Regions from separate parts of the Homo sapiens genome. Here region 2 is linked to region 1. A link means that fine-mapping ties the variant in region 1 to the expression of a gene that starts in the linked region. Tissue or cell type: tibial nerve. Region 1 holds a variant in brackets; the other region holds the start of a gene. All regions are shown on one strand. Distances are from middle to middle.

Region 1 (5,391 bases):
TTTCCAATTTCATCCATGTCCCTACAGAGGATATGAACTCATCATTTTTTATGGCTGCATAGTATTCCACTGTGTGTATGTGCCACATTTTCTTAATCCAGTCTATCATTGTTGGACATTTGGGTTGGTTCCAAGTCTTTGCTATTGTGAATAATGCCGCAATAAACATACGTGTGCATGTGTCTTTATAGCAGCATGATTTATAGTCCTTTGGGTATATACCCAGTAATGGGATGGCTGGGTCAAATGGTATTTCCAGTTCTAGATCCCTGAGGAATCGCCACACTGACTTCCACAATGGTTGAACTAGTTTACAGTCCCACCAACAGTGTAAAAGTGTTCCTATTTCTCCACATCCTCTCCAGCACCTGTTGTTTCCTGACTTTTTAATGATTGCCATTCTAACTGGTGTGAGATGGTATCTCATTGTGGTTTTGATTTGCATTTCTCTGATGGCCAGTGATGGTGAGCATTTTTTCATGTGTTTTTTGGCTGCATAAATGTCTTCTTTTGAGAAGTGTCTGTTCATGTCCTTCGCCCACTTTTTGATGGGGTTGTTTGTTTTTTTCTTGTAAATTTGTTTGAGTTCATTGTAGATTCTGGATATTAGCCCTTTGTCAGATGAGTAGGTTGCGAAAATTTTCTCCCATTTTGTAGGTTGCCTGTTCACTCTGATGGTAGTTTCTTTTGCTGTGCAGAAGCTCTTTAGTTTAATTAGATCCCATTTGTCAATTTTGGCTTTTGTTGCCATTGCTTTGGTGTTTTATACATGAAGTCCTTGCCCATGCCTATGTCCTGAATGGTAATGCCTAGGTTTTCTTCTAGGGTTTTTATGGTTTTAGGTCTAACGTTTAAGCCTTTAATCCATCTTGATTATCTCAATATTTGCAGAAAAAGCCTTTGACAAAATTCAACAACGCTTCATGCTAAAAAATCTCAGTAAATTAGGTATTGATGGGACATATCTCAAAATAATAAGAGCGTATCTATGACAAACCCACAGCCAATATCATACTGAATGGGCAAAAACTGGAAGCATTCCCTTTGAAAACTGGCACAAGACAGGGATGCCCTCTCTCACCACTCCTATTCAACATAGTGTTGGAAGTTCTGGCCAAGGCAATGAGGCAGGAGAAGGAAATAAAGGGTATTCAATTGGGAAAAAGAGGAAGTCAAATTGTCCCTGTTTGCAGACGACATGATTGTATATCTAGAAAACCCCATTGTCTCAGCCCAAAATCTCCTTAAGCTGATAAGCAGCTTCAGCAAAGTCTCAGGATACAAAATCAATGTACAAAAATCACAAGCATTCTTATACACCAACATCAGACAAACAGAGAGCCAAATCATGAGTGAACTCCCATTCACAATTGCTTCAAAGAGAATAAAATACCTAGGAATCCAACTTACAAGGGATGTGAAGGACCTCTTCAAGGAGAACTACAAACCACTGCTCAAGGAAATAAAAGAGGATACAAACAAATGGAAGAACATTTCATGCTCATGGGTAGGAAGAATCAATATCGTGAAAATGGCCGTACTGCCCAAGGTAATTTATACATTCAATGCCATCCCCATCAAGCTACCAATGACTTTCTTCACAGAATTGGAAAAAACTACTTTAAAGTTCATATGGAACCAAAAAAGAGCCCGCATTGCCAAGTCAATCCTAAGCCAAAAGAACAAAGCTGGAGGCATCACGCTACCTGACTTCAAACTATACTACAAGGCTACAGTAACCAAAACAGCATGGTACTGGTACCAAAACAGAGATATAGATCAATGGAACAGAACAGAGCCCTCAGAAATAACGCCGCATATCTACAACTATCTGATCTTTGAGAAACCTGAGAAAAACAAGCAATGGGGAAAGGATTCCCTATTTAATAAATGGTGCTGGGAAAACTGGCCAGCCATATGTAGAAAGCTGAAACTGGATCCCTTCCTTATACCTTATACAAAAATCAATTCAAGATGGATTAAAGACATAAATCTTACTCTTAATCTCACACAATATAATTTTGCCATAATACAATTAATACAAGAAAATTATTTTAATTAACAAAGGCATGAAATAACCTTATCAGAATGTTTGTGATAGTGTTGTCGATGTTATCATGAGGGTTCCAGGAAGGTCAAGTAAGAAAAATTATCTAAGATGCATCAGAGGCTGTGTTTTCATAGACCTATAAGGGAAGCCTCTGGAACCTAACTTGGTAGGAGTGGCAAATGATTTGATTCCTCCAAAGAAAGGGGCTAGCATGAGTTTTCTATGGTTTGCACTAAATGCCAATCAAAGACTGCATCCTTTTTAACTGTTCTCTTGCCTTCAGCACTTGATCTAACATTTCTTGAACAATTATTTGTTATGCAGAGAAGAG[C/T]TGAAAACTGTAGCCACAGAAACATCTTCCACAGACAGAATATTTTCTGCCTCCAGTTTTCCCTAAAATGTTTGTCTTCTGCTGAAAAGAAAGACTGTAGCAGATCATGTATTATGATTTTTTGTCTGACAATAAGGCCTTATTCAATGTTCAAAAATGAAAAACATTAAAGGTGGCAGAGGTAGGGGGTAACATTAGCTGCCCATGATAATGAATGTGTACATACAGGCCCATCTTTGAAATAACTTCAGTCCAAACTAATATTTCCTTGAAAATGGTGCCGGTAAATTGTTGAAAGAGACACTGGAATAAAACCAGGAAATTGTTTCACAGCAACTACTAACCACTCCCAGTCAGGCTCCTTTTTTGCCATTGTGAAGATGGCTGGGAATGGATTGCACCAAATTCTAACACCCACTGAACTATTAAATACAGACCTTCAATGGACCTGCTCCTAGGACATTATGAATCATCCTTCAAACAAGGGTGCATTCTTAAATGAGTGATCCTCACCCATCACTTCAAGTGGCATTTTTTCACAACAGCAAGGTGGTACTTAGATCATCTTCCAGTTAATACACGGTGTTTGAATGCAACACATGATGAAGCTGAACTTTTATTCTCTCATGAAACACTTTAATACACTGCTTGTAAATTTACATGCAAAAAACTCTTTATTTGACAGTTTTCCATTTTTAGTGATTTCATATTTAAGGAGAAAGATAGATCTTTTTTAAGTCTACTATTATCCTCCCACTGTGCCTTTAGCTCTCTCAAGAAATAAATGCAAAGCTACATGTAAGATCATTGTACAATTAGGATCAGAACAGCTACGAAAGAATTAAACAAAGTAGATAAGATTATTTCTACCTGGCCTCCCATACATACCTCACAGAGCTTTGGAAAGAATGAAGAGAGGAGATTTTTGGGAGAAAAATCCCTGAAGTGTTTTTCTTATAAATTATTCAATTACCATGTTTTTAATTAAATTATGTTAGAATTAAAGGGAAAATGCAAAGAAGGCCACAGGAGATGAAGAGAAATGACGAGTATCAAGTGTAATGAAGAGATCCTTGGAATGTTTGATCTTATCAGTTATCCTGGCTGTCCCACAGAGAGCAATGCAAGGAAGGGCTGCTAGTATCTGTTAAGCTTAGAAGAGCCCTGTCATTATTCTACCATGTATAGACAATTAGTACCCATCTGCCCACAGAAAAAGGGGAGGAGAGGGTGGTAAAGGGAAACGAGGACCTAATTATGCAATATTGTATTGATTACTATCTGTCCATATCTTGTTACCTAATTTGCATAATCAAGGTCAATTACCTCTAGATTTTTAAAAATTCTGTAGGGACTCAGATACTAACATTTTAATCATATTTTGTCTGTAATATTTTTTCTGTGTACATACTTAAATACAACTTATTGATGATATTTTTGATTAGTCATCTTAGAGCAGTTTCTTTAGATTCCTTTATTCCTGAACATCAGTAATGTACCAGAAGGGAACAGCATATTGTTTTATTTGTAAGGACTAAGGAAACATCAATCCTTATCAAATGTTTCTTTAAAAACCTCCCTGATGACTATAGTGTGCAGGGAAATCAGCAGTTAGCATGAAAACAAGATAATTTGGAATACTTAGTAATAAAAGAATTAAGTACCTAAATAGCTAACAAGGTTGATTTCATCCAACCATATTTCTCTAAACTGTTGCAGATATTATGATCATTCAGTCCATGTAACATACTATGCAATGAAAACTGCTTATTACCTAATTAATGAATATTCTTCAAATATCCTGGGATTTCATGGTGTACTAGGAAAAGCAGTACATACTTCACCAGTGATACTCTCTTTATTTGGTAGAACAATAAAAAGGGCCTTTTATATAATGTTTGTCAGAGGCAAGATTTTCTAAAGGGACTAGACAAGTTCTCTAAAGAAGGTAAAAAGGAATTATTATTTAACTCTTCCTCTATATGCTGGAGGGAAAAGGGATGATGAGAGCCAACTGTTTTCCCATTGAAAGTATAAGCATTTCAAGTGCACTAAGTTTAAGACTGGCAAGGGATTGCCAGGAAGTTACATTATTGCTAAGTCAAGGAATTTTCCTAAGGAAGAAAAAAATAATTAATTGGCACCATTTCCATGGAAACTCAACAGATTCTTCAACTCAGTTTCCACATTTTGAAAAAATGTAAGGAAAAATGCTGAGGACTTTGGATCACAGATAAAATTTTCCATCAAAACAGTTTTAAAGTCAATTTTCCCAATTTGGATTTGAAATTAGAAAATACTAGTGCTAGAAATTAGAAATTTCTAGTCAGAAAACTGCATTTGCCAGTGTGTTTGGAATTGATCAGGATTTTGAAGTCTGGCTTATGTTATCGAAGCTCACAGAGGACTGATTCATACCCCCAATTCCAATCATTAAACCTATAATAAGGGAAGATGGCTTTCCAGTGACTGGATTGCTTGCATTATTTGGTCTCTGCCAGATAATAAAGTTTCTATAAAATATACTTAGTCATTAGAAGATTTCTAAGTGAACATGATCAAGTCAAAAATGTTGAAAGAATTTAAGGGCTCCTTATTCAAAGATGGAAATATCTGGCTAATTTTCCTTGTTTTACAAAATCATATATAGTCTAGGGTCAAGTTTGTTCACATCTTGGACTGTACAGAAGGGCCTTTTCTATCTATATCAAGATCATCCCCATCTTACCGTGGATATGACACGTGGCAACTGATGAGGTTCAAGCATTCTTAACAAGCTGCCTCCCTGTAATCATAGATTACATCCACAGATCTCCTCAGCCATATAGTCAAATGAACCTTATCAAGGGTGTGTTGTTGCTCTCACTCTTAGAGGGCAAAAGGGTAGTGTAGGCAGCTAGGCAGACACGAGCAGGGCAGGAGAGGGCCACCCACCCAGGAATGTCAGACGACCACCAGGTGATGGTTAGGTAGTTGTTAAACTGTCTCTTTAAAACCGTAATTGGTCACA
Region 2 (5,391 bases), 260 kb before region 1:
CAGCTTTAGCTGTCCATTTATTGGAACACAGGGCCAGTGTGAGGCTTTTATAATCTTCACAGAGTGGGGTAATAATATTGAGGCTGTCAATATGCCGCTAAAAAAAATAATGCAAGGGAAGAAGTCAATGGATCCAAGAGTTTGATATATTGAGAAATGAGAAACCTACTGTGACTAGCATTTTCTTGTCATTCTGTAACAGAGGTAAAATCAGAAACCTGCGATTACACACTGCTGGTGGTATTTTGCCTGAAAAAGCCTCTCGGTGTGAGAATTGCTAAGTGCCTCTTTCCTGAGAACAAGTATGAACCAAGAGATAACCCAACATTCCAGATGGTATCATCTCCTTAAGGGAGAAAGCAGGGGAAAAATAAAGTCAACTGTGATTAAAGACGTACTTGACACAGAAACAAGACCAAAATGAGTAAAAAATCTTTTAAAATATATTTTTATAAATGCATCAGCAAAGTATGAAAACATGTAGACTTAAGTTATCACGTGTATGTGTGTGTGTGCGCGTGTGTGAACATCTATATATCCTCAACCAAATAGCACCAAAATTGTAATAAATTATAAGTACAGTTCATACCTATTTTTAAGGATATTAGTATTTAATTGTATGGGCTTATAGTTCTGTGGAAAAGTGGATAGGGAAACAAAAAACGTTTTCAACACATATATGTATAACCTATCCTATTATGTTCATGTAATCTTTAGCAAGGGCCTTATGTGACCTTAAAAGGAAGCGGTGGGGAGGGGGGCAGTTATAATTAAGAGGGCAGGCTATGAAATCAGATCTAGGATTGAATTCCAGCTCTGCCACTTACAGTTTTCAACGCCCAGATTCTTCATTTGTAAAATATGGTTAAACCTTCCTTGTTTTGAGAACCAAATGACATGAATATTGTGAAACTCTTACATAGAACATAGGATATAGAATACTTAAAAAAAGAGTAGTTGTTGACTGCAAACAGTAAAACAAAAGAATAAATAAGTCAGTCAATGGGGTAGTCAATGGCTATTTTCTTATTCAAAAGAAAAGTGAAGCTAGAATAATTTTAATGGGAGATTTTAAAGATTTTCTAACACATAATCTTATTTTTTTTAAAAAAAAAACAGCCCACAATTTTCAGCAGTTTTTACTTTCTTTTTTCTATTTACTAGCATCATTTGACATAAGTAGTGGAAATGAGCTTCTGAAAATATACTTAATTTTCATATTATAAATCTTATTTTCTATAGTTTTATTAGGAGACAGTGTTATAACATTTTATATCTGGCAGAAACTCGAATACAGTAATTTTAATTTATTCATTAATAATGAATAAATTAGATGAGATACGCAAGGCTCAGAAATATTAAGAATTGCTCCAAACACCCAGATATTGTGGAGCAGAGTCAGGATGGCAGCTGCAACCTTCTGACTTCCAATCCAGGGCTCTTCATACAAGAAGGCTGTCCTGTATATGTGACAGATACAAGTTCCTATCTGAACACTGTCTTTATTAACAAGTTTTCGTGTGCATAAATGGGTGCCTTTGAAGATCTGGATACTTAATTGGGGAGCATCATCTGGAGTGTTCATGTTGGCTAAAGTAGCTCTTGTCAGGAATACGTATACCAGCAGATGCATCAGTTAGAATATTCTTTTCTCCAATGGGTTTAAGACATACTTTCCTAAGAATTGAGTTTCTGAAACACTGAACAACACCCAAACCCTGCAATCCAAATTTGTTTTTGCCTATTACACTGAAGTCTCTCTGTTAACAGGCATATATAGAAGACAACCATTTTTTTCAATATAATATTTCATAAGTTAGATGAAATCTTTTGTTCCATTATATAAAGTTCAGAAAATCAACATAAAATTAATAATGATGTTAAAGAAACTACTGGAAACCAGATAAATACAATACAATCTATAATTGTTTTCAAGTTTTTTGGACATTTCGCATACTTCTCCAAGTTTTCTACATTATGTTATAAAGTTCTAATAAGTTCATTTATGTGAAAAAATTAACTTTTTTTGATACTTGATATTTATATTATTACTAAAAAGCACTTCATCCGAGAGAAAGTTTCAAAGAAAGCCTTCCTTTTATAGGAAGAGGAGAGGAACATTTAAACTATGTATTATTACCAAATTGATATTCAAAAAATATATTCAACTTCAAAAGGCAAATGACTAGTTTAGACATGCTTGAGAGAGAGACATTCACTTTAAGGTTCTGGGACAACTCCTTTGATATATCTCCATCTTAAAAACAAGCAAACAAACTCTTGTTTGGAGAGGGTATTTAGAGCCATAAATAATTTTTTACTGGGTCTATTTTTGAGTTGGAGCAGGAGTAAGAAATACATTTTATATGGAATTTTAAATCACTTTTCAATTTATGAACCTAGCCTAGAAAGTCTGTGTAAAATGAAATATTTTAAAAGTTACAGTATTATCTGTATCTTCATTTCTATATGTATGTATCTATCATCTGTGTACCTACTCATCTATCTATCTAATTATTCTTTCTTTCCAGCAAATGTTCACTTCTGGTTTCCCTACGTCTGCCTGGAAGTGGGGGCAGTATGGCAGTATGGAAGACCTAGAAAGGGACAAGGAGAGCTACAATAACAGCGGTCTAAATATATCCTAGGATGAAAAGGTGAGGAAGGAAACAGGCGCAGAAGTGTTATAAGAAACCAAAGCGGCCTTTTGAGAAGGGATGTAAGAGCAGGCCCCTGAGCAGTTTCACTTCCTCTGGGCGCCCAGCAGAGCGGAGCCCTGGCCTTGCGGGCATGAGCCCCGGGGCTGCGTTTCCTGAGACCTGGCCGCAGCCTCCGCGGGTGGCAAGCGGGCTGGGGAGAGCCGAGGGCCAAAGGAAGAGAAAATCGCGGGGAGTCTCTGGCCGGGAGAGTCCAGGTAGCGCTCGGCGGGCAGCAGTGCGCAGGCCCCTCGGCTTCAACCGCCACAATGCTGCCAGCAGCGCCAGGCAAGGGGCTTGGGAGCCCGGACCCCGCCCCCTGCGGCCCAGCGCCCCCAGGTGGGTAGTCGCGCATTCGGAGGGGCTTGACGCCGAGGCCGGGCTACGGGGCTCTGCGGAGACCACGGGCCATCGTTAGACAACTGCACTCGGGCACTGAGGCCAGGGCGTCCCTGAGACAGGGCTTCTCCTTTTTATCCTGCCGCCAGGCAGCCCAGAGGGTTCTTCTGTCCCTGACTTCTCTGAGGGGCATCTGGACGCCACGAGGAGGGAGCGCGCTGGGAGTTCTGGCCAGCGGGCTACCCTCAGTGTCTGCAACTTCTGAGGAGCTGGAACTTTCCCCAGCACCCGGGTCAGGGTCCTGTAGTTTCTAAAATCACTTTGCAACCTGTTTTAAAGCAATGCGCGTTTAAAATTATACGTAATTATTTTCAACAGTCGGTAAGCACAGAAAAACCGCTCATGTGTAGCGTCACGCATTTACCTGCCCGGCCTGACAAATCCCAGCCTGGTGAATTGGTAGCCCTGCTTCTTGGCAGGTGGCTTTGCAGAGAAACTCTACCAACACCACCTCCCTACTCCACTGGCTTTACTAACTTGGTCAAAGGAAAACGGTCAACTTGGTTGAATGCAGAAGTAGATTTATATTTTCAAATGGACGTTAAGGCAGTTTTATTTAGTTCTTTTTGAAGCATTTCAAATGCATTTGCAAATTACTCAGTGATATAAAAATGTTTTTTAAATTAAAAAACTTCACTTAGGTATTAATATTACTGGAGTGTTCGTGGTGAGAAATGCAACAAGAAAGTATATTCTGAGTGAAAGTTTCTTAATTTGCTGAATAGAAATAAATTTCTCATACCTTTCTAGAATTTTTTAGGTAATGTAATTTTGGTTGTAGCTATTTCTGTTGGCTAGTGCATTTTTACATAAATAAGCTTTAGGGATTGCTTTCAGTTAAATAAGAAGTATATTTGTGTCAATGAAAAGTGACAAGAAAGGACTTAGAGCCCATAACTTAATATTATTAATATTTTAACTATTGCATATTGACATTCTTGAAAACTGTGGCTCTGATGGTCTTCAGCAGAGCAGACTTTGCTAGCATCTATAAATAAACCAACCATGTCTTTCAAACTTTGAGCAGGTTACCTCTTTTGTAATTTCAGTTTAACAATTTTGTTAGAGAATGGGGTACAGTTTGTTTCAAACTTCTAGATTAAACAGTTTAGGCAGAAAATGCCTTTTATTTCACTTGATACTAAGCAATACTTTGAGGCACTTGCTATTGTGAATAATGCAAGAGTAATGTGAATCAATATTTATAGCATTCCAATTATTCTTGTTCCTCCCATGCATTCCGCTCCCCCCCCGCCCCGCCCCTCCCAACTCCTTGGGTCCTTCTCCATGCAGTATTTATCACTTGCTTCAGTTACTTCCTTTTCTGGCCAACATAATGAAACTTTTCTAAAAACGAATTGTCTTTTGACATTATCCCATGCCCATATTCTTGATATGAGTAATCTTCTAGCTTTTATAAATCCAGTGGTTTGTGTGTGTGTGTGTGTGTGTGTGTGTGTTTTTTTTTTTTTAATGAAGAGCTCCCTCTCTCTCCAACAACTATCTTAATATGGCACATTGGGGGTCAATTGGTCCAACTGCCTCATTTAGAGAAGAGAGCACTGAGATCCAGAGTGTGAGTTGCTCATGGTTTCATAACTAGTAATTATTTGAAGGTCACCCATTCATTAACTTAACAAACTTTTATTCCCTGCCAAGAGTCATGTAGTAGTAATAAGAATGTAAAATGGTAAACACAGTTTCATGCCCAGGAAGGTATATTTCTAGCAGGAGATAGAATGTACTGCTAGACAACATTAGTGTATACTGCCATCAGAGATTTATTAACTGTTGAGTATCGACTTGTTCTTTAATGGAAGCAAGAAAAATAGAATACCCAGTTCTCTAAAACAAGGTAAAAATGATGCACAATGGGTGAAAGTTCTAGTTAGAATGTATTTTCTGGTTTGTATTTAACTATATATTACTATCAATGTCCAAAAGAGAGATTCTTCCTGTTGTATTCCAAAACTAATGATTTTAAAAATTTAATTTTAACTGCTGTTTTAATTAGGGAGTGATTATTTATTAAATCACAGATTTTTCTCCACACCATAGTTTTTTTTAAATTTTTATTGATATTATTGGATGCATCTGATGAAACTTTAATAAATGATTTGCTTAAGAACAGAAAGCATGAAAGGGTGGAATTAGCATTTAGACTGTTTCACCTTACGCTGGATGCTTATACTTGTAAGGAACATGGTTTGTCTAGGTCTCTGCTCTCTAGCTTGAAGTTCTTAAAGATTTGAAGCTTTTTGCTTTGACTGCAATCTTCCAACATAGCCAACGTCCT

Alleles and levels. Positions count from the first base shown, and alleles are read on the strand shown. Sizes are in standard deviations (SD) of each study's normalised expression.
For the expression in tibial nerve of the gene that starts at base 2,815 in region 2, allele T in region 1 goes with a lower level than allele C (large effect, 0.80 SD a copy in GTEx).

Evidence for each region. PIP is the estimated chance that this variant, and not a neighbour inherited with it, causes the effect.
Region 2: BANK1 starts here. The variant in region 1 is the best candidate, but not a certain one, in a credible set for the expression of BANK1 in tibial nerve (GTEx, PIP 0.76).

The regions. Positions count from the first base shown.
Region 1 is chr4:102,044,323-102,049,713 of GRCh38, forward strand. The region is part of intron 11 of BANK1 (B cell scaffold protein with ankyrin repeats 1); the gene reads left to right. Among named protein-coding and RNA genes, the nearest start is that of BANK1, 260 kb to the left of the region's middle. The variant C/T (reference allele first, on the strand shown) is at 2,382.
Region 2 is chr4:101,787,916-101,793,306 of GRCh38, forward strand. BANK1 (B cell scaffold protein with ankyrin repeats 1) reads left to right here and starts at 2,815. Exons shown (of 17, transcript NM_017935.5): 1 at 2,815-3,035. The coding sequence starts at 2,966. RefSeq lists a silencer at 2,902-3,091.